2 separate regions of the Homo sapiens genome follow, and region 2 is linked to region 1. The links come from fine-mapping of genetic effects on gene expression. A gene starts in region 1. The other region holds a variant in brackets. All regions are shown on one strand. Distances are between the middles of the regions.

The links.
Region 2: its variant is fine-mapped to the expression of TBCC in whole blood (TOPMed, PIP above 0.99). The same link has a PIP of 0.9 or more in T cells and blood mononuclear cells.

What each region holds. Positions count from the first base shown.
Region 1 is chr6:42,740,258-42,752,296 of GRCh38, forward strand. It overlaps TBCC (tubulin folding cofactor C), which reads right to left and starts at 5,846. Exons shown (of 1, transcript NM_003192.3): 1 at 4,241-5,846. The coding sequence starts at 5,816. The coding sequence ends at 4,776. It also overlaps a transcript of BICRAL not described here. RefSeq lists enhancers at 5,335-5,494, 5,555-5,634, 5,665-5,874, 5,939-6,902, 7,289-7,338 and a silencer at 6,845-6,904.
Region 2 is chr6:42,764,520-42,776,558 of GRCh38, forward strand. It overlaps a transcript of BICRAL not described here. Among named protein-coding and RNA genes, the nearest start is that of BICRAL, 12 kb to the right of the region's middle. RefSeq lists a silencer at 6,260-6,309 and an enhancer at 6,780-6,979. The variant G/GT (reference allele first, on the strand shown) is at 7,138.

The DNA.
Region 1 (12,039 bases):
CAGCTACTCGGGAGGGTGAGGCAGGAGAATGGCGTGAACCCGGGAGGCGGAGCTTGCAGCGAGCCGAGATCGCGCCACTGCACTCCAGTCTGGGCGACAGAGCGAGACTCCGTCTCAAAAAAAAAAAAAAAAAAGAGAAATTAAAATAAAATAAAATACAAATAAATAACAAACATAAACTAAACATGTACCCAGTCAAAAAGTTAAATTGGCTTGTTCTCACTTGTAACCTCAACACTTTGGGAGGCCAAGGTGGGAGGATCCCTTGAGCCTAGGAGTTCAAGACCAGCCTGGGCAACATGGTGACATCCCAGCTCTCCAAAAAAAAGTAAAAAAATTAGCCAAGTGTGGTGGCTACTTAGGATGCTGAGGTAGGATAATTGCTTGAGCCTGGGAGGTCAAGGCTGCAGTGAGCCATAATTGCACCACTGCACTCCAGCCTAGACAACAGAGTGAGACCCTGTTGTAAAAAACAACAACAACAAAAAAGCTAAACTGTCAATGCTCCTTGGGAGAAATTTGTGCATGAACTGGATTTGCTAATGTTTATTAAACTGCAACTTCTATGGAATGTTCTTGGTAATGTCCATAAGCATTCCTCTGCTCAAGGACCTTAAAAGTCATCCAACTTTTTAATCATCTTTCTTGGAAATTACCATCTCTGATGAGATGTGCGTGAATGGCCCTCCCCGGAGAATTTCAGTAACCAAAGCTGGGGAAAAAGCAGTTACTCCTCCCTCCTTCATTTCCCCTCCTCAAAGATTACAGCTAACTTTTATGTAAATCTTTAGTACTTTTTGATTGGCCAGAAGTTTCCCCTGTTCTTTCCCATAGTGGTCGTTCCTTGGTTTCTCTTTAAGCTTTTTCCTTTTTTTTTTTTTTTTTTTGTGAGATAGTGTCTTGCTTTGCCACCCAGGCTGGAGTGCAGTGGCGTGATCTAGGCTTACTGCAATCTCTGCCTCCTGGGTTCAAGTGATTCTCAGGCCTCAGCCTCCCGAGTAGCTGGGATAATAGGTGCACACCACCATGCCCAGCTAATTTTTCTATTTTTACTAGACACGGGGTTTCACCAAGTTGGCCAGGCTGGTCTCGAACTCCTGACCTCAAGTGATCTGCCCACCTCAGCCGCCCAAAGTGTTGAGATTACAGGCGTGAGCCACCGCTCCTGGCCTCCTCATTTTTTTTTTTTTATTGAGACAAGGTCTCACTCTGTCGCCCAAGCTGGAGTGCAGTGGCACAATCACAGTTCACTGTAGCCTTGACCTCTAGGTTCAAGCAATCATCCCGCCTCAGCCTCCTGAGTAGCTGGGACCACAGGCGTGTGCCACCATGCCTAGCTAATTTTTGTATTTTTTGTAGAGACAGAGTCTTCCTATGTTACCCAGGCTGGTCTTGAACCCCTAAGCTCAAGTGATCTTCCCACCAAGGCCTCCCAAAATGCTGAGATTACAGGCATGAACTACCAAGCCTGGCCCATGCCTCATTTTCAAAAGAGACTAAGGAAAATCCCAGATTTCCCAGAGGAAGTGACATTTGTCTTGTATGAAATTTTGGCAAGTGCATGGGGACCCAATCTGTGTGGGCACTGCTCGAGAAAAGGCCAGGAAATACGGCAAAAACTATTTGCACTGAATATTTATTTTTTGAGATGGAGTTTCGCTCTGGCATTCAGGCTGGAGTACAGTGGTACAGTCTCGACTCACCGTACCCTCCTCCTCCCAGGTTCAAGCGATTATCTTGCCTCAGCCTCCTGAGTAGCTGGGATTACAGGCGCCTGCCACCATGCCCGGCTAATTTTTGTATTTTTAGTAGAAACGGGATTTCACCATGTTGGCCAGGCTGGTCTCAAACTCCTGACTTCAGGTGATCCACCTGCCTTGGCCTCCCAAGGCAAATCCCAAGGCAATCCCGAAGTGCTGAGATTACAGGCATGAGCCACAGCGCTGGCCTGCCCTTAGTGTCTTCCATTTCCTCCTCCAGATCCATTCTTCATTTTTCTCCACGCTGTTCTACATCCTGGGAGCTGACTCATATGGACTGCGGCAGCAGACTTCTTTGCCCTGAAATTTCCAGTTGGGCTCTACCAACGGGAGGCACCAATAAAAGAGAATGACATTGTTTAAGTCCCATGGCTCTCTCCCTGCCAGGTCACCATGGATTGGCAGCATCCCTCCACTGAGGACTGAAACTCCTGTCAGGTAGCTCAATAACTGTCTATCTCTCTCTGCATTCAGGTAACATTTTTGTCCCTTCAGCCCTAAGGATGGTAACAGATATTGTACCATCTCTAATTGCTTTTCTTATACTCTGCCCACAGCTTTGTAAATAGCTCCTGTATTAAGCTCTTCTCAAAGTATCCATTTTGAGCAAGCCATCTGTTTCCTGCCAGAGCCCTGACATTGTGTTTGATTAATGGGTATTAGTTCAGACTAGCTGGTGCATGAAATGTGTGTGATGAAACAGTAAAACATCATGTAAGAACAGTAGGCTGAAACAGATGGTGGAGGGGCTTGTCTTCCAGGCCAGGAAGTCTATCAGATAATAAGAATCTCAGAAGGTTTTAGATCAGGAGTGACATACTTTAAGAAAACTAATTTAGTAGCTGTATGCAGAATAGTTCAGAAATTGGAGATGGGGAGATGAGTTAGGAGATGATTACCATTACTAGTAGAGGAAGGTAATATTTTGTAACCATCAAACTGGCAAAGACCCAAAAATTTCTTTTTTTTTTTGAGATGGAGTTTTGCTCTTGTCGCCCAGGCTGGAGTGCAGCGCCACAATCTCAGCACACTGTAACCTCTGCCTCTTGGGCTCAAGATATTCTCCTGCCTCAGTCTCCCAAGTAGCTGAGATTCCATGTGTGTGCCACCATGCCCGGCTAATTTTTGTATTTTTAGTAGTGACGAGGTTTCACCCTGTTGGCCAGGCTGGTCTCGAACTCCTGACCTCAGGTGATCCACCTGCCTTGGCCCCCCAAAGTGCTGGGATTACAGGGATGAGCCACCGCGCCTGGCACCACCCCCTTTCTTTTTTTTCTTTTTTTTTTTTTTATACAGAGTCTTGCTCTGGAAATGCAATGGCACAGTAATGGCTCACTGCTACCTCTTCTTGCCAGGTTCAAAGGATTCTCATGCCTCAGCATCCCGAGTAGCTGGGATTACAAACACGCACCACCACCCAGCACTTGGAAGACCACGGGGGACAGATTGCTTGAGCTCAGGAGTTCGAGACCAGCCTGGGCAACATGATGAAGCCCTCTCTACAAAAAATACACAAATTAGCCGGGGGTGATGGGGTGCACCTGTAGTCCCAGCTACTTGGGAGGCTGAGGTTGGAGGATATCTTGAGCCCAGAAGGTCCTTCACCCAGACCCTGTCTCAAAGAAACAAAGGAAAAAAAAAAAAAAAAGGACCGGGCACAGTGGCTCACGCCTATAATCCCAGGACTTTGGGAGGCTGAGGCAGGTGGATCAGCCGAGGTCAGGAGTTCAAGACCAGTCTTGCCAACATGGTGAAATTCTCTATTAAAAATACAAAAAATTAGCCGAGCATGGTGGCGGGCTCCTGTAATCCCAGCTGCTCGGGAGGTTGAGGCAAGAGAGTCACTTGAACCAGGGACGCTGAGGTTGCACTGAGCTGAGATCACGCCACTGCACTCCAGCCTGGGCAACAAGAGCGAAACTCTGTCTCAAAAAAAAAAAAAAAAAAGAAACACGTAAAGAGTGATGGCTCTCCGAAGGAACTGAATGTCTAGGGACAAAGGAATTACCTATGGTTTTTTGTTTTTGAGACAGTGTCTCACTCTGCCACACAGGCTGGAGTGCAGTGGCGTGATGTCAGCTCACGACAACCTGTCTCCCAGGTTCAAGCAGTTCTCCTGAGTAGCTGGGACTACAGGTGTGAACTATCATGCCCGGCTAATTTTTGTGTTTTTAGTAGAGACGGGGTTTCACCTGGCACCGGGTCTCCAACTCTTGACCTCAAGTGATCTGCCCACCTCAGCCTCCCAAAGTGCTGGGATTGCAGGCGTGAGCCCCCGGGCTCAGCTCTGGAATTTATTAAATATGTATCTATACCCTGACACTGCTGGTTACTGTCTATAATCCGAGTGTTTTGGGAGGCTGAGGCAGGAGAATTGCTTGAGGTCAGGAGTTCGAAACCAGCCTGGGCAACATAAGGAGAGCCCATCTCTTTAAAAACAAAACACACACACACACACACACACCAAACAAACCCATGTATTTACTGCAGACCTACTTTATTATGCACCGTGATGTTTCAAGTATCACAAACCATTACAAAGCAATATAATCACCCTCCTTCCCCCTTACTGCTTCAAACTATTGTGGTAAAAATAAATAAATAAAGCCCTGGCGTGGTGGCTCACGCCTGTAATGCCAGCACTTTGGGAAGCTGAAGCGGGTGGATCACCTGAGGTCAGGAGTTCGAGAGCAGCCCGGACAACATGGCGAAACCCCGTCTCTACTAAAAATACAAGTTCGCGTGGTGGCGCGCGCCTGTAATCCCAGCGCGCCACCACGCTGGGGGACGGAGTAAGACTCAGTCTCAAAGGCATGACGAAAATAGCAAAAATGCTTTAGTGTTATACCTGTTACGAATTTAATGGAAATTACAAGTAGGAGCCCATTACAATCTCTAGCCTTAAAATGCTGAAAACATACACAGTGTGACAATAAGTAAACTTCGAGACCCAATAAGGGGGAAAGTCCAACGTGGAAAGTATTTGGTAGGAGTGAAGAACAGAGTGACAACTGCTTAGTCCCACTGGATATTTCGCTCCTCTTCAGGAAGAATACTCCAGTTTGGGGAGGCCATATCCCGGGCCAGCCAGTTAAAATCGTCAACATCGTTCCAGTTATTTTTGCTCCTATCTAAACCAGAGCTCTCGAAGTCCTTGTCGATCTCCGGGTAGCTCCAGGTGTAAGGGGCGAACTGGATCCCACTGCAGTCCTCCACGATGGCCCTGCTGGTCACCTGCAGGAAGATGCGGGTGTCTTTCGTACTGTGTATGCGGAGCTGTTGGCAGGCCACTGCCAGCACGCAGTCACTGCAGTCCTCCAGGAAAACAGAGGTAGACACCGGACCGCAGAGCAGCTTGCAGCTGTGGGCCTTGGTTAGCCGCAGGGTGTTGGGATTTCCATACAGTCTGACCGTGCAGTTGCTCAGTTCGGTCAAAAGAACGTCGCGCTGGTGCAACTCGCTGGCTCTCTTCTCCAAGACTTGGGACTCCAGGTTGGAGAAACCGCAGACCCAGCTGGGGCCGAGGTCTCCTTCCGCCTTCTTGGGCAGCGGGGAGTCCTGTATGCTTTCAACTGCCGGGGGGATGCCAGGAGCCGCGTCTACTTTGGTAGACGAAGCAGCATCCTTTCCCCGGGTCTTGAAAGCGAAACGCTTCTTGGGCTGCAGCCCCCGGCGCCGCTCGGCCAAGGCCGCCTGCAGCCGCGCCAGCGCCTCTTGTCCCTGCCGCAGGTCGTAAGCGGCTAGGAAAAAAACTGAGTCGTTGATTAGTTTCTGCAGCCCCTGGAGCCGAGAGGCCGCCTCCTCCAGCCGCTCGACCGACTCCGCGCGCTCCAGAAGCTCTTCCACGGCCGCTCGCTCCCGAACAAAGGTGGCGACGAAAAAGTGGCTGTTCTCCTTCTCTACCTCCTGGTTCTGCCGCTTTTGTTTCCGCCTTTCAACTTCCAGCTGCCGTTCTTGTTCGCGTCTCTGAAGCCGCTCAGGCACCAGGCTCAGGTCCCGCTGGGACTCCATGTCTCCGGTCCTGACAGCAGCAGCGGAGCAACTGACGGACTCCATATTGGCTTCAAGCTTCCTCTCTCTTGTCTTCCTTCCTCCGGGCGCGCTGTCCGTGAGGCCTCCCACCAACGCGTCCGGTGATTGGCCTAACATGATGATGTCAGATCCCCGGCCTTATTTTCTTCGCCTATTGGTTCCTCTGCGTCGGAGGGGGCGGGGAGATGGGGCGGGGCCGACTGACTATGGGGGTGGGAAGACAAAGGTTCTTGTGGATGGGTGGGGTGGGAGGCAGGCGGGGGAATCTTTTTTTTCCTCTTAAAGGGGCAGGACTTATATCCGGGATTGTGGGGTGAGTTGCAGCAGCGGCAGCTGCACATGTGGGTTTGTTTATAAGAACAAGGTTAGAAACTCGCAGGCCTCCCCCTCCCCCCAGCTCCTCCCTACTACCCCCTTACAGGCCGGAGATCCGCTACTAGGGGTGTGGGTGGGAGGGATGAGTGCGTGTGGTGGGTTGGGGGGACAGGTAGTGGTGAGAAAGATGGAGCGGGGGGGAATATTGCACCGCCTGGCCCGCGCCGGAGGAAGCAGCAGCTGGAACAGCTGGCTGGGGAGCCGCTTGCATGCCTCCGGTTTTTTCTTTTCCCTTCCACCACCCCTTCCCCCAACCCATTTCTGCCTCCCCGTAGCCCTCATCCTTACCGCCCCCCTCCCCCCTATCCACTGCAGTTCGGCGCGGCCTGGGGGCTCCTGGATCCCCGCAGGCAGTTACTAGGGCAGGAGAAGGCAAGGGGCACTGCGATGGGAGAGACTGGGTTCCTCACTGCAACCTGGTTCGAGGGGCCCTGGGGGAGTCCATAAAAGGATTACTATTTTTTTGGCCAATTGCTGCAGTCGGAGGGGTGGGGGCGGGGGAAGGTGAGATCCACACCCCCTTCCTCTTTCTTCCCTGCCCTCCCCGAGCTCGGTCCCGGCCACTCCCTCCGCAGCTGGGCGTCGCCGGCCGCGCTGGGGTGAGACCCTAGCCCCGGGCTCCGTGGCTCTCTGGGGCGGTCGGTCTTAGGAAAGCGGTGGGAGAAGCGGTACATTATTTCTAGGGGTGGTGGGAGGGATTTGTCACCGGAAGTGAATGGCCTAGCCTAAAGTCGGGACCAACCCGAGGTGTGGGTGGGCAGCCAAGACGGCGCAGTCACTGGCAAAAACCCGAGGCAGCGGGCAGGGCGAGAACCCGAGACGCAGCCGCTGCCCGGGCGCGGCAGCCTCGCATGCTTCGCTCAGATCTGCGGAGCTCCCGAACCTCTTTAACCCTGCCCGCCCTTCCAACCCTAGGTTTCCTCCTTATATCCCCAGTTCCCAGCCTCCATCGTTTAAATTGGGGTATTTAACGACCCAAGAAACTTGAAATTTCACCGATCTACCTGCATTTTGATGCAGAGAAAGATGGGAGGAAACGCGAACCATTGAATTAAATCTGAGTTAAAACTGATCTCCCATTTTCACGCCCCACTCTCTTCCTTTCCTTCCCACTTAAAACAAACAAAACACACATAAATTGCTGGGCCAGAGTATTTCTCCGCTGAGAGCACAGTTCATACCGTGTGGCAGATTCCCCGCGCAGGCGGGGCGCGGGGGCAGGGGAGAGGCTTGTGTGTCCGCGTGCCTGCGTGCACCCGATGGAAAAGGGGGTGCCGAAAAACAATGGTGCTTACTCTTGTGCATAGTCATCGTTTTCACTAGTCTTGTTTTATGGGCAGATTAGGTGAGGCTTCTGTTTTTGCTTTTTTGTTTTATTTTGTTTTTTTTTTTTTTTTTTGAGACGGAGTTATGCTGTTGTTGCCCAGGCTGGAGTGCAATGGCGCGATCTCGGCTCACCGCTATCCGCCTCCCGAGTTCAAGTGATTCTCCTGCCTCAGCCTCCCGAGTAGCTGGGACTACAGGCATGCGCCACCATGTCCGGCTAATTTTGTATTTTTAGTAGAGACGGGGTTTCTCCATGTTGGTCAGGCTCGTCTCGAACTCCCGACCTCAGGTGATGCGCCCGCCTCGGCCTCCCATAGTGCCGGGATTACAGGCATGAGCCACTGTGCCTGGCCCTTTTTTTTTTTTTTTTTTTTTCCAGAAAAGCAGGTTTATTTCACAAAACTGTGGGTCTGAAAGCTGGTGGACAAGAAAGCTAGTTATATTGTCCAAGTCGTGGAGGAATTGCAATAGCTGCTTTATTTTATGAAATGTTGATTTAAGCAAAGAAGCTTTAGAGAAGATTTATTTTTCTAGAAAAAAACAACCTGACCTTTTAAGTTTTTCAGGTTGAACCTGTCTCACTCAAATTAAGAACGTTTGTAGCTAAAGAAGGTTTATTGGACTTGGAGGTTGCAGCTGGAGTGAGATAACATTTCGGTATTAGGCATAGTGAATCTATGGGTGTTGTAAGTGTTGGCTGTATCCCAAGTGGAATTGAATGTTATTAAACCCTTTCAAGAACTTCATTTCTGTCTACCAACAGGTTTTTGCTACAATCCAGTAGACTTGGGAAGTTTCTAAATACTTGAAGTTGGTTAGTTCGAACTTTCAAGAAAAGGAAACAGTTAAAAACAGAGCTTGACAGGTCACCCAGGTGACCCGGTGTGTTAGGGGCAGTTTCAAAGACTGATGTGAGGAGTAGTGGAAAGGGGTCAGTGAGTGATACGGTCATTGTGAAGCATTGGCTGGACAGTTCTTTACAGCCCCCCTGCACAGCTGCAGGCTGTGAGGTATGTGGTCAAGAAATGGAGATAAAGCTGTTTCTGAGTTCAAACACAGTAGGAAGGCTGCGAAATGGCTGGCATTGCCCGGCTGTGTTTGCATCCTCTCTCTGCCATTTGAGGGCAGTGGATTCAGCATGCATCTTTGAAATATATCCCAGCTTGTCAGAGGTAAGTGCCTGTTTTGATGGAAGGAGAGTGGGGAATGCATTACGGGGGAAATGTAGCAAAAGGCAAGCAGCTCTGAGTTCTGCATCCTACTTTCAATGATATCTCAAAGGGCTTGTGAATCAAGGTACTGCTCTCTTGTAGACATCTTGAAAAATGAAAGAATTCTAACGTATTATGGACTTTACCGTTTATTTAACAACAGTTTAGATACTTTATGGTTCTATTTGTTAGATCCCCCTTTTAACTTTTTGAAAATTTCCAACATATATAACATGGAGAGGGTATTAGAATAGTGTTCCAAGGACTCACATACCCATCACCCAGCTTCAACAACTGCCAACTGATGTTAAGTAAATAAGCCAGGAACAGAAAGAAAAATATCACATGTTCTCACTCGTATGTGGGAACTGAAAAAGTTGATCATATGGAGTTGGAGTGTAGAATGATAGTTACCAGAGGCTGGGAAGTGGAGGGAGATGAAGTGAGATTGGTTAAAGGGCACAAAGGCACAAGTTAGATAGAGGGAATAAGTTCTAGTGTCAGATAGCACAGTAGCCTAATTCGAGTTAACAATAATGTATTGTACATTTCAAAATAGCTAGAAGAAAGGATTTGAAATGTTCCCAACACAAAGAAGTGATAAATGTTTGAAGTAATAGATATCCCAATTATTCTAATTTGACCACTACATATTATATGCATGTATCAAAATATCACATGTACCTCATAAATATGTACAATTATTATATATCAATAAAAATAATAATAACTTTTTAAAAAACAGTTACCAACTGAGAATCTTGTTTCCTGTAAAGCCCTAGTCACTTCCCCACCTCTCACCCTGATTATTTTTTGGCCCATCCCTTATATTATATTATTTCATATTTTATTGTCTATAAATATTTCACTATATACCTCTAAAAGATTGGGAGTTCCTTTTTTTTTTTTTTGAGATAGAGTCTCGCTCTGTTGCCCAGGCCAGAGTGCAGTGGCACGATCTCAGCTCTGTGCAACCTCTGCCTCCCAGGTTCAAGTGATTCTCCTGCCTCAGGCTCCCAAGTAGCTAGGATTACAGGTGCCCACCACCACGCCCGGCTAATTTTTTTTAATATATATAGTTTTAGTAGAGGCGGGGTTTCACTATGTTGACCAGGCTGGTCTCGAACTCCTGACCTCATGTTCTGCCCACCTCTGCCTCCCAAGGTTCTGGGATTACAGGTGTGAGCCACCGTGCCTGGGCCCTTTTTTTTTAAATTGAGACAGGGTCTCACTCTGTCACCTAGGCTAAAGTGCAGTGGTGCAATCACAGCTTACTGTAGTCTTGACCTCCCAGGCTGAAGTGATCCTTCCACCTTAGCCTCCTGAGTAGCTGGCACTACAGGTGTGCACCACCACTCCCAGCTAAATTTGGTATTTTTTTTTGCAAAGACAGGGTTTTGCTGTGTTGTCCAGGCTGGTCTTAAACTCTTGGGCTCAAGTGATCTGCCCACCTCGGCCCCTGGAAGTGCTGGGACTACAGGTGTGAGCCCCCACGCCTGGCCACTTCCCTTTTAAGACAGCCACATTGCCGTCACCACACTCCAAAAAAGCATAGAAAATATTTTCTCAATAGCAGATTGCCAGTCTATATTCACATCTGATTATCCCATAATATACGTTTGCTTTTTTCTCAAGACGACGTCTTGCTCTGTCGCCCAGGCTGGAGTGCAATGGCGCGATCTCGGCTTACTGCAACCTCCACCTCCTGGGTTCAAGTGATTCTCATGCCTCAGCCTCCTGAGTAGCTGGGATTACAGGTGCCCACCACCATGCCTGGCTAATTTTTTGTATTTTTAGTACAGATGGGGTTTCACCATGTTGGGCCAGGCTGGTCTTGAACTCCTGACCTGAGATGATCCGCCTGCCTCAGCCTCCCAAAGTGCTGGGATTACAGGCGTGAGCCACCGCGCCCGGCCTTTTTTTTTTTTTTTTTTTTTTTTTTTTTTTAATACTTTAAGTTCTGGGATGCATGTGCAGAATGTGCAGTTTTGTTACATCGGTATACATGTGCCATGGTGGTTTGCTGCACCTATCAACCTGTTATCTAGGTTTTAAGCCCCGTATGCATTAGGTATTTGTCCTAATGCTCCCCCTCCCCTTGCCCAGTTTCCTTTTTTTAAAGTTATTTTATTTGAATAAGGATCCAAACAAGTTCCATACACTGCATTTAGTTATTGTGTCCCTTAAATCACTTTTTTTTTTTTTTAGTTAGACAAACAGCTTTATTTGAAAGATGTGGTCAGCCAAGTCCCCCTCCAACCCCAAGGTCCTGGCAGCATTGGCCTCAGGCGTGGGAGGACCCGTGTCCTGGGTGGAGAGCCTTAAATCACTTTCACTGTGTGGGTTCCTTTTTCTCTAAATTGTTTTGTTGAAGCAGCTTGGTCATTTGTTCAGTAGAGTTTCCCACAGTCTGCATTTTGCTGGTTGCATCTCTATACAGTATTTGTTAAATTTTAAACGTCTGTTGTATTTATTTGATCTTTTAATGTTACAAAGGGAATCTCATGATTGTAGTTACATGCCTCAAGAAGTAAGTAGTGAAAGCATTTAAGCAAAGGAAAACAGTCTTTAGGTATGGTAAACAATAAAGGAATAGGCCCTTCGGTGTTCTCTGGAGTTTGTCAGGGACCCTGCACTGGTGGAAGATACCAGCCACACCCAGGCAAATAAAAGGACCCTTTTTCTTTCTTTTCTTTTTTTTTTTTTTTTTTTTGAGACGGAGTTTTGCCCTTGTTGCCCAGGCTGGAGTGCAGTGGCATGATCTTGGCTCACCGCAACCCCCGCCTCCTGGGTTCAAGCGATTTTCCTGCCTCAGCCTCCCAAGAGGCTGGGATTATAGGCATGCGCCACCATGCCGGGCTAATTTTGTATTTTTAGTAGAGACGGGGTTTCTCCATGTTGGTCAGGCTGGTCTTGAACTCCTGACCTCAGATGATCCGCCCGCCTCAGCTTCCCAAAGTGCTGGGATTACAGGCATGAGTCACCGCGCCCGGCCAAGCCCCTTTTTCTAGTAGTTTGATGCCAGAAAGAAGCATCACCTATTCATCTTTCAGCAAGTCTTGACTATATATGGGATGTAAAGCATTCATTAAAGAGCTGTGCACATCAAAATTATCAAATGTTAGGCAAATCTTCCTACCTTGGCTACTTTCTGGCAGGAAGACAGTGAAAGGTGACAGTTGTGCAGGCAGGTCCTGTTGTTGGGAAGCAGGACAGGAGCAGCCTTTTCCTTCTGCCTTTGCCCCTGGCGCTCTCCTCTGCCTCAACGCCCTTGACCTTCTGAAACTTTTTTCATCATTGTACACTTAACGTCTAGCACATAGGCTGGCACGTGT
Region 2 (12,039 bases), 24 kb after region 1:
AGAGTAAGACTCTGTCTTAAAAAAAAAAAAAAGAGTTTTGTGTTGCATATATAGATTTATATTATGTAACTGTATTCTATATATACACATACACGACTTGAGAGATAGGTTGTATTCTTTTTATAGGTTATGGGGTCTTTTGTTTGTTTGTTTTTTTGAGACGGAGTCTTGCTTTGTCACCCAGGCTGGAATGCAGTGGTGCGATCTCAGCTCACTTGCAAGCTCTGCCTCCCGGGTTCATGCCATTCTCCTGCCTCAGCCTCCCGAGTAACTGGTACTACAGGCGTGTGCCACCACGCCTGGCTAAGTTTTTGTATTTTTAGTAGAGACGGGATTTTACCGTATTAGCCAGGATGGTCTTGATCTCCTGACCTTGTGATCCACCCGCCTCAACCTCCCAAAGTGCTGGGATTACAGGCATGAGCGACCACGCCCGGCCTAGGTTATGTTTTAAAAATGTTAGAAAAACGTTTTGTGAATAAATGATGCCTTGCACTTTATGGGGCTCAGAAGTGTTTGTTGAATTGGATAAAGAGCTGTCTTTGTGTCATTACAACGCTGTAGCAATAAGGAACTATGCATGCTGAGCCAACTCCTGTGAAATGTCTTGTCAAGTGAGAACCTATTTGTGCTGCAGAGACTTTTCCCTTCTGTAGTTGGTAATAATAATGAAAGTTTGCTTTTACAAAGTAACTATTACAAAGTTGCATTATTATTGCTAAACAGTGAAAGAGGCTGATTTGGAGGACGGAATAATGGCAGGAAACATTTAGGAATGTGAATGCGTAACAGGGCTATGTTGCCAGGGATTTGTAGCTCTGACAATTGGGAGTTCTCTCTGGGAGAGATCCCAGTGGTCCATGACATGTAGTAATTTGAAATTTGCTGAGGCGCAAATTCAAGTACATCCTAGGAGGCTTGTGGGGAGGGAGACAGTCATTGAGCTAGTGAGCAAGCCACGCCCCCTGCTCCATGTATGTGTTTAAACATGGCATGCATGCTATTTTTTTCTGTTCTTTGTCTTCACAGAGTAATTCCCTTCAGGTAATAGAAACTCTTTTCATCTGAAGAATGATGATGAAGTGAAAGGTGAAGCTTGAGTGAAATGTGTGTTGCAAACATAAGCCAAGGAAAATATAGGCTCTTGATAAAGGTGTGAGTTCCCCAGAAAGCCAGAGCCACTGTAGGACTTCATGTATCGTACAAGTGGGCGATTCCTGGTGCTCTCTTGTTGGTAGCTCTACAGGCTGTCAGGGATCAAGGCAATATTATTTGCTGCTTTTTTTTTAAGAACCTGTAGGGGTGAGCATTGATTTGAGGCAATATATAATGATTGATTATATAGCCTGTGGAAGATAGAAACTTAGTGTGTAGAAATCGTTTAAAAAGAGGAAAAACTATATTGTATATGTGGGGATTTGTTTGTTTGCTACTAATTCCAGTGCTTTTTGTTTTTGTTTTCTATTTATTTCTTTTGAGACCAGGTTATAAGACTGGCTAATTTTTGTATTTCTGGTAGAGACAGGATTTTGCCCAGGCTGGTCTCGAACTCCTGGGCTCAAGCTATCCATCCACCTTAGCTTCCCAAAGTGCTGGGAATGCAGATGTGAGCCACCATGCCCAGCCTTCCGGTACTTTTTCATCAATTGCTTTAGGAGTGACTTTGTAAAGTTCTCTGATATTATCTGAGTAGTCAAGTTCTTTAGGATTGTGTCATCAGTCTCAAGTTTGCCCAGAGCTGGGGCTTTTCCACAAATCTTGGGGGTAAGAGAGAGAGATGAAGAGTTGGAGCCAGGACAAGGATCGTCAGTGGGAAAATCAGGACCAGATTCTGCTTCTACCTTCATGTGTAGATGCTGACTCTTTTGAAAGAACTACAATAAAGTCACCTGTGGATTGACCCACATGCCTTAGCTCTGAAACACGCAAACTGGCTAACTGGGGAATCCACTCCCATGCCATTCTCTAATATTTGTTCATCTAAACTTAGCATCCTGTAATGTGCTTGTGAGTCATAATTGCAATTGTAGAAAGAGAAAGAGGCCTGGCACAGTGGGTCACGCCTGTAATAGCACTTTGGGAGGCCGAGCGGGTGGATCACTTGAGGTTAGCAGTTTGAGACCAGCCTGGCCAACATGGTGAAACCCCATCTCTGCTAAAAATACAAAAATTAGCTGGGTGTGGTGGTGAGCACCAGTAATCCGAGCTACTCGGGAGTCTGAAACAGAAGAATTGATTGTGCCGGGTGCCGTGGCTCACACCTGTAATCCCAGCACTTTGGGAGGCCAAGGCGGGCGGATCATGAGGTCAGGAGATCGAGACCATCCTGGCTAACACAGTGAAACCTCGTCTCTACTAAAAATACAAAAAATTAGCCGGGCGTGGTGGCAGGCGTCTGTAGTCCCAGCTACTCGCGAGGCTGAGGCAGGAGAATGGCGTGAACCCGGAAGGCGGAGCTTGCAGTGAGCTGAGATGGCGCCACTGTACTCCAGCCTGGGCAACAGAGTGAGACTCCATCTCAAAAAAAAAAAAAAAAGAAGAAGAATAGATTGAACCTGGGAGGCAGAGGTTGTAGTGAGCCAAGATTGTGCCACTGCACTCCAGCCTGGGCGACAGAGTTAAGCCTCTGTCTCAAAGAAAGAAAGAGAAAGAAAAGAGGAGAGAGGAATGTCAACTTAATTAATTGTTTAAAAAGAGGAAAAACTGTGTTGTATGTGTGTGGATTTGTCTGTTTGCTTATTAATTCCAGTGCTTTTTTTTGTTTTCTATTTATGTCATTTAATTATTAATTAATGTCATTTAATTTTAAATGAGAAATTATGCCTCATGTAAAAGTTTTTTTGTAAAAGGCTAGGCTGAGATTCATTCATTGCCTCACCATGGATGCCACCATGAGTCTAACTCTGCTGTCTCAGCTCTGCAAACACAGATGATAGATGGGCATCTCATCTGAACATCATTAGGTCCAGGGAACACTTGTCCATGCCACCCTGACTGACTTTAATCCAGTGGGTGTTTGTTGAGTGTCTGCTACCTGCAACACCAGCCAGGTGGCTTGATATGGTAAAGACGCAAGAAATGTTAGCTTAACATATTGATGCAAGCTACTGTAGTTGGCCCTGGGGAGAAGGGAAGTATAAAAATGAACAAAGTGTAGTCTTCATCTCCTTGAGGCTTACAATCCAGGGACAGACAGGACAAGTAATTATTAGTCAAGCTGACCATACTGTGTGTTATCAAGGAGGAAGGAAGTTCTATGGAAGTACAGAGGAAACAGGAGGGTGGGAAAAGTGGGAAGGCAGGGGAGGTGTCCATAGGAAAGGAACACCAGGCAACAGGAAGAACACAGGCAGAGCTGGGTGGACACCAATTGAGAAACTTGGGAATAACACCGCATGGCAAGAGTGGAGAGTGGTCTGGAGCAGCATGGAGGAGGCGTGGTGGAAGATGGGGCTGGAGATGCCAGTCATTCTGAGGGTGCTTGGGGACCTGTCAGATGGTTTAGAGCAGGGAGTGAGGCATCAGATTTGTGTTTTAGAAGAAGGTGAAGAGAATGGATTGGAGTAGGGGAAGTGCCATTGGGAGGCTATTGTAATGTTTCACTGGATAAATGACAGGGCTTGACTGAGAGCAGTGGAAATGAAATTGAGGTTACTCAAGAATGATTTGTCTTCGAAAGCCAATCTGTGAATTTATAATGGGCATGAACTTACCAACCACTGGAATGATTAGGTCAGCTGGCCGGAACACTACTTTTAAAAGTGAAGTCCATTAATAATCAAAAGATTACTGGCTGAAAGTGAAGTGAAGGCAAAAGGAGTTGGATGGTCTGAGAGGACCTTTTACCCCATCGATAGTAGTTTTTACATAGCAGTAATACTAAAGCTTAATCTTTGGTGGGTTGTTGTTCTCTCTGGAGAGATACTTGGCCTGCCACAAAAGGAGGAGCTGCTTCTCTGGCCAGCACTGGACAGAAGCTGGCCAGCATATTCCAGGATCTTTGGTTTGCAAGAAAGTGAGCTTGCTCAGATTAGCAGGTAGAATGAGGAATAATCGTAAGGAAAGGAAATATTCCAACTCCAAAGCTAGAAAGCCAGCCAGGCCTCAGGGGACTCAGATATCAATCAGGCACTTTCTCCTCCCTTCTCCCCTCCATGCCCAGTGAGAATCTGCTTTCTTCCCCTCTACCCCAATCACTGGTCCTTCTGAGGCCGTGCACTTACATGGGCCCCATTACCACTTCTCCAAAATGGTGGCATTGCCCCCTAGGCTTTCTAGCCTTGTAGTCTGCTCCTCACAGCTGACCCAGTCTCTGTGTCCCAAGTGCTAATACCCAGAAGAGAGGATCCTAATGGCCCAGGTTGGGTCAGATGTCGTTCTCTAAGCAGGCTAAAGATGTGATGTGACAGATGCTTTGAGAAAAAACAAAATAGTAGTAAAGAATGGGTAACTCTAATATATTTTAAACGTTTCTGGACTTCATGTTAACCCAGTGTATTGGTTGTCTATGACTATATAACAAGGCACCCTAAAATGTAGCAGCTTAAAACAGCAAGCATTTATTACGTCACAGTTCTGTGGGTCAGGAATGCAAGAAGAGCTTAGTTGAGTGTTTTTGTCTCAGGGTCTCTCATGAGTTTATAGTTAAGCTGGCCCCTGGGGCTGCAGTACTGTGAAGGGTAGGCTGGGGATGATCTGTTTCCAAGCTCACCCGTGAGGCGGTCTGGCTACCAGCAGGATGCCTAAGCTATTAGCTATTGGCTGGAGACTTCAGTTCCTCACCACATGGGTCTGTCCATAGACTCTCTGAGTGTCCTCATGACATGGCAGCCAGCTTCTCCCAGAGTGAGCGATCCAGAGAGCACCCAAGATGGGAAGCTTCTGCCCTATCCTATTGGTCACCCAAACCAACCCTGGTACACAGTAGGAGGGAGGATGCACAAAGGTGAGAATACCAGGAGGTGAGGCTTGCTAGGGGCCATCTTGGAAGTTAGTTACCATATCTGGTCAAGAAACATTCCTTTAGTGCCTACTGTGTGCCAAGTGCCGGGACTGGGAGCTACATGACACAGAGTCTGTCCTAGAGCATCAAGCTCACTGTCTGGGCTGGAGAAGCCTCACACAAACACAATACCATGTGTGCTCGGAGCCCTCACCTCTGCCCACCGACCTTCCATACTGCTACCACATTTATCCTCATGGAATTCAAATCTGTTCATAGCATTCTCTTATTGTGTCCTGTTTGTCTAGAATTTTTTTTGTTCAAAAACTTAAAGATCACCACCACAGTAAGAAATACACTTATATTACAAACAAGTACATACATACACAGACACATTTATAACTGAAACAGATTTCCCAAGTTTACACCCTTACTGCTTGTATGTATTCTGGTATCTTCTGATCTAGGTTCTTTCATTTTTTATAAAAGCTGGTCACAGTCTCATGACTTGCACAGCCTACTGCATTGTGACCTGCAGTGTGGAAAGCAGCGGCCTACGGATCATCCACACCCTTCCATGATCTGCAAAGCCCCTCATCATCTGCCTGTCCCCCTCATTTATATTTAAGGACTTTGCCAAATACACTCTCTTAGGTTCCTCTACCAGGAGCTCTCTTCTGCCTTTCCCCATGTGATTTGGAGAACTCTTAGTCATTCTTTAAAACCCAGCTTTAAAGTATCTCCTGTTCTTCCCTCTCTTAGTTTTTTGTTTTCTTTTGTTTTTTAAGACAGGGTCTTGCTCTGTCACCCAGGCTGGAGTGCAGAGGCGTGATCTCGGCTCACTGCAACCTTCGCCTCTCGGGTTCAAGCGATCCTCATGCCTCAGCTTCCCGAGTAGCTGGGATTACAGGCACGTGCCACCATGCCCGGCTAATTTTATTATTATTATTATTTTTTTTTTTTTTTTTTTGAGACGGAGCCTTGCTCATATTGCCCAGACTGGAGTGCAGTGGCGCAATCTCAGCTCACTGCAACCTCCACCTCCCAGGTTCAAGCGATTCTTCTCCCTCAGCCTCCAGAGTAGCTGGGATTACAGGCACCTGCCACCATACCCAGCTAATTTTTTGTATTTTTAGTACAGACGGGGTTTCACCATGTTGGCCAGGCTGGTCTCGAACTCCTGACCTCAGGTGATCCACCCGCCTCGGCCTCCCAAAGTGCTGGGTTTACAGGCATGAGCCACCCCACCCGGTCAGTGTTTTTGTTTTTTTCGGTCTGGAGTGCAGTGGCGCAATTTCCACTCACTGTAGCCTCCACCTCCCGAGTTCAAGTGATTCTCCTGCCTCAGCCTACCGTGTAGCTGGGATTCCAGGTGCCCGCCACCACGCCCCGCTAATTTTTGTATTTTTAGTAGAGACGGGGTTTCACCACGTTGGCCACGAACTCCTGACCTCAAGTGATCCGCCTGCCTCGGCCTTACAAAGTGCTGGGATTACAGGCGTGAGCCACCGCACCCGGCCCTCCCCTCTCTGAACAGGATTGCCTACTCTGTCCTCCGACTCCCAGAGCTTTTCACTGACACCTGGGGACTGCTGGGTCCCTCCTTCTCTCCTAGCCTGCCCAGGGCCACCCCAAGCCTGCAGTAGATTTTCATTTATCTCTGTAAGAACGTTTACAAGGACATGGAGCAAATTAGCATCACACAAATGACGATGCTGCAAATGAGCGGTGTACAGGGTTGGCGGGTGTTGCAGGCAGGTTTCCTGTCGTTGGCGCCACGTGCTGCAGAAAGAGGACCCCTCCCCCTGCGGGCCGCCGCTGCGCCCGTGCATCCGTCACAGGTACAATTCGCACCGGAACTTGCGGCCCGGCTTCATTACGTGATGCTTTTTAGCTGCTCTGGTTTCTTTTTGTTTTTTCTACTTTTCTCATTTGTTTGTGTTGTTAGGGACCGCCTAGTGAGAAATTGAGCTTCAGGCTGCGCAGATAGAAAGGCCTCTATATCTGCATCCCCACCCCTGTGGGGGTGGCGGGGGGTGGTGGGGGGGTCCTGTCTGAAGTGGTAGGGAAGGAGGGTTTTGAGGTTTTTGACTATTTGCTTGCAAGTATCTAAGTAAGAGATTTGTTTGCCCACATTTGCACTCTCTTGGCTAGCAACCCGACAAAATATTTTCTGATGGTTTTTCGTGTATGTG[G/GT]TTTTTGTTTTTGAGGGAGAGAATAATTAACACCTTGGTTAAATTGTACTGAGATACAATGGCTGTTTTTAAAAATTGCTGTTAACTGAAGGGTTGAAGCTAGTATAATTCCCAGGCTCAGCCTCTTGGGAGGCTGAGTCTCCAATAGCATAGTCTTCAATAGACTATGCTGTGAATTGTAATCAGAAAAGAAAAAAAAATTAGACACGAGCAAAAGCAATTAAAGTATTTATTCTCCAATATTCGCATTTCTGCATTTGTCAGCAGCTGTGGAACTGTCACAAGATATGCTGATTTGGTTGTGGTATGTGCCTGTCTGGGGAGGGGAGGAGGAGGATGAAGGCAGACTGTAAACAAATCATTATTGTAAAGTGATCAGTGGGTAATAGAGGCGTGTATAGAGTGCATAGAGAAGGGACTCACTCATTTTAAGCAATGTTTTTCAAATGGGGTCACCTCCATTAGTGAATCATGAAGTCCTTTACCAAGTGCCTAACAGCATTTGAAAAAATAAAGACAATATAGAATGAAATACATCAAGATGCATCCTCCATAGTAGGTTTAGATATTTTTTTTTCAAAAACCTTTGTTTCAATTATATATCTACTGAATTACAATGTGAAATGTGTTTCTTGGGATTGAGTCTCAAGCAAAGATGTTTGAAAGCCACTGAGTTAGGCGACGGGAGAAGGCTTCCCAGAGGAGGTGGCATTGGAGCTGGGCCTTGAAGAATGGTGGACTTGTGCCACAGGAAAAGGGAATTCCAGGCAGATGGGAAAGGATATGTCCAAATCTGGATCTGTTTGTTCAGGGGCAGGGTATTCTCTGTAAAGGGACCACAGGGTACTAGGAGAGGACTGGCTCGAGATGTGCCTGGGGAGGCAGGTGGAGCCAATTACCGAGCCACTTGAAAGTACATATACCACTTCTCAGCTTGCCCTAGAAATTCCCATTCTCTGGTTATGGATTTGGGTTTGGGAATCTGTACTTGCAATAAACATCCCTGGGCAGTGAGGCAGTGAGGTGCTGATGAAGGTGTGACACAACCAGCTCTAGAATCTAGAAAGATGATCTTTGTAGCAATTTGGATAGGAGATCAATGGGAGGCCAAGCAATAGGCGGACCTGAATTCAGGTGATGGTAATTGGCAAAGAATTACCATTGAGGGAGGATGGTATTCGAGGGAGATTTTGGAAGTGAGTTTTGTAGGGACCAAGGGAAAGCTTCACCTCCGCCCTGTGAAAGTTTGCTGAAAATGAACTGGCAGTAGACAGATTAAGAGGAGAAAAGACATAACAATTTATTTAATATTTAACATGTATAGCATGGGGGAATAGCAGGAGAATGATTACCCAATAACCCAATGAGGTCCAGGTGCCTAAGTACCCTTCTTCACAGAAGAAGGGGAGATGGGGAGTGGAGCAATTTTTTTTTTTTTTTGAGACGGAGTCTTGCTCTGTCGCCCGGGCTGGAGTGCAATGGCACGATCTCGGCTCACTGCAACTTCTGCCTCCTGGGTTCAAGGGATTCTTCCGCCTCAGCCTCCTGAGTAGCTGGGATTACAGGCACCCGCCATCATGCCCAGCTAATTTTTGTATTTTTGTAGAGACAAGGTTTCGCCATTTTGGCCAGGGTGGTCTTGAACTCCTGACCTCAGGTGATCCACCCACCTCAGCCTCCCAAAGTGCTGGGATTACAGTCGTGAGCCACTGCACCTGGCTGCAATTAAAAAAAAAAATTAAAAAAATACAAAGCATCGCCATGTTGCCCAGGCTGGTCTCGAACTTCTGGGCTCAAGCAGTTCTCTAGCCTAGGCCTCCTAAAGTACTGGGATTATAGGCAAGAGCCACCTTGGCCAGCCTTTTTTTGTGTGTGTGAGACGGAGTCTCGCTCTGTCACCCAGGCTAGGGTGCAATGGCACAATCTCAGCTCACTGCAACCTCTGCCTCCTGGGTTCAAGCGATTCTCATGCCTCAGCATCCCGAGTAGCTGGGATTACAGGCGCCCACCGCCACGCCCAGCTAATTTTTGTATTTTTAGTAGAGACAGGGTTTCTTCATGTTGGCCAGGCTGGTCTCAAACTCCTGACCTCAGGTGACCCATCCGCCTCGGCTTCCCAAAAGTGCTGGGATTACAGGCGTGAGCCACCACGCCCAGCTGGCCAGCCTGTTTTTGGGGATGATGGCCCATTGCAGCTTTGACCTCCTGGGCTTAAGCGATCAGAGCAATTTTGAAGGGTAGCAAATGATTTTTAAGAAGAATAAATGGTTCAGGGGACAGAAATTATTTTGTAAATGATTGTTTTGGAATTTGAGTGAGAGGCAGACATTATCTTGTGAAAAAACCCGTCCAGATGTGATTGCATTTCTCAGTCTTTTCTGTGACAAATAATGAGATTTCAGAGAGGAGAACTAAGGCAATTCTGTTTCTCTTTTGGGGTCCAGTAGTTAAGGAAACTTCAGAGAACATCCTGTGCTTTTGAGAGAGACGGAGGACTGAAAAGATAGGGGTTTGGAGGAGGAGAGGTCAGAGAGACCTTGAGGCCCATTCTTTAGTTCAGCATATCAGGGTGCCATCTTTCAAGCTATCATTTTTCTGAGCTCCAACAGCTCCATGGTTTGAGGGAGAATGAGGAGGAATCATAGACAAATGAAAAGTATCCAGGGGTTGGTCTAGGGGAAAGGTGGGTGTTACAAACATGCATAGAGACTAGAGAGGAAGAGCAAATTCAGAAGGGAAGATGATTACTTGAGTTTTGGTGCTTGCATGTGGTGGGGCAGGAGTAACTCATCGCATTTTCACCAGGCCGCGTGCGAAATATCCTTTCAGAGCATCAGTGTGCCCTTTGCTCTGACTGCCAATCTCTGAACATCCTCCTGATTGTCTTAGACCTGACTCAGGATTGATAAATACACCTAACTAGTAGTTGATTGTATGATTTATAGTGAGAGAGATATATAAACATTTGGAGTATAAGAGTACCTTTGCACAGGGTGTCACTTTTACAGTATTAGGGTCCCTGGGAAATGGAACTAGTAATTGGAAGATTTAGGAAAGAAAGAATTATATGGTCTAAGGGTATTTAATCAGGCTCTAAAAAGTGCTCAAGTAAGAATGTGGCTCTTTAGTGATCAGAATACTTGTGAGGGTCACACAGTGTCTCCACTCCCGTAGTTTTTTTTTTTCTTTATTGTCAAGGATATTTCTTTGTGCCTGCTTAGTACATACTTATTTCCTTGTCTTCCACTCATATTTATGAGTCATCTTTTTCAGAGTGGTTCCTTTTTTTTTTTGAGACAGAGTTTCGCTCTTGTTGCCCAGGCTGGAGTGCAGTGGCGCCATCTCAACTAACTGCAACCTCCGCCTCCCAGGTTCAAGCGATTCTCCTGTCTCAGCCTCTCAAGTAGTTGGGATTACAGGTGCATGCCACCACACCCAGCTAAATTTTGTATTTTTGGTAGAGACAGGGTTTCACCATGTTGGCCAGGCTGGTCTTGAACAATCCTGACCTCAGGTGATCCGCCCGCTTCAGCTTCCCAAAGTGCTGGGATCACAGGCGTGAGCCACTGCGCCCGGCCAGAGTAGTTCCTTCTTCAGATGTTTTACCTCTTAGTAGTTTCATTTTCAGAAAGCACACTGACATTTATTGGGCAAGTCCCTTTACATGGGTGTTCTATCTTAGAGACTGACTTTCTCACTAAGCTCCAAGTGTGCTTTGTGGTAGCACCTTAAAGCCTGATTATGTGACCTCCATTCCACTTCCTCTCCACTCCCCCATCCTCCTGAGCAGGTGGAATAGAAGGAATGCTCTATTTAGGAGAGTTAAAGAGTTCTGATAGAATACCAGGGGGACCTGGGAGCCAGTGAATGGCACATCCTGGGCATGCCTTCCAACAGCATGTGGTGCCCCCCTAACCTGATGGCTGTCCTCCCCTCAACATATTCTATGGGGAAACAGTCTACATGGGTAAGACAGGAAGGCCAGTGGGAGTGCTGAATGCTTTTTTTTTATTATTAACAGCTCTGCTGTATTGTATTAATTCCTTATCCTTGTACTGAAAGCTTGTAGGAGTTCAGATTTTTTTTAAGTCTGTCAAGGAAAATAACCAGCTTGAAACATGTCATTTAATATAGAGACAAATAGCTTTAGTCCTCTACAAGGATGATGTGAAGTGTTTAAATTCATATATTGAATAAAATAATGTAGGCAAGGTATTGAAAACATTTGTAATCACTCCAATAAATTGCTTATCATTGCTTTGAAAATAATTCCACGGTACTTTTAATAACAACAACAACCACAACAATAATGGCAACTGTTATTCAATACTATATATGGGACACTGAAGCAAAGGTTTTTTATTTTATTTATTTATTTATTTTGAGTCAGAGTCTTTCTCTGTCACCCAGGCTGGAGTGCAATGGTGCAATCTCAGCTCACTGCAACCTCTGCTTCCTGGATTCAAGCAATTCTCCTGCCTCAGCCTCCCGAGTAGCTGGGATTACAGGCACCCGCCACCACACCTGGCTAATTCTTGTATTTTTAGTAGAGATGGGGTTTCACCATATTGACCAGGCTGGTCTCTTGGCCAGGCTGGTCTTGAACTCCTGACATTGTGATCCTTCTATCTTGGCCTCCCAAAGTGCTGGGATTACAGGCATGAGCCACTGAGCCCGGCCCTTATTTTTATTATTATTTTTTTATTTTTGAGACAGGGTCTTGCTCTGTCGCCCAGGCTGGAGTGCAGTGGCTTGATCATGGCTCACTACAGACTCAACCTCCCAGACTCAAGTGATCCTCCCACCCCAGCCTCCCAAGTAGCTGGGACCACAGGCACATGCCACCATGCCCAGCTAATTTTTGTATTTTTTGTAGAAATGGGATCTGACCATGTTGCCCAG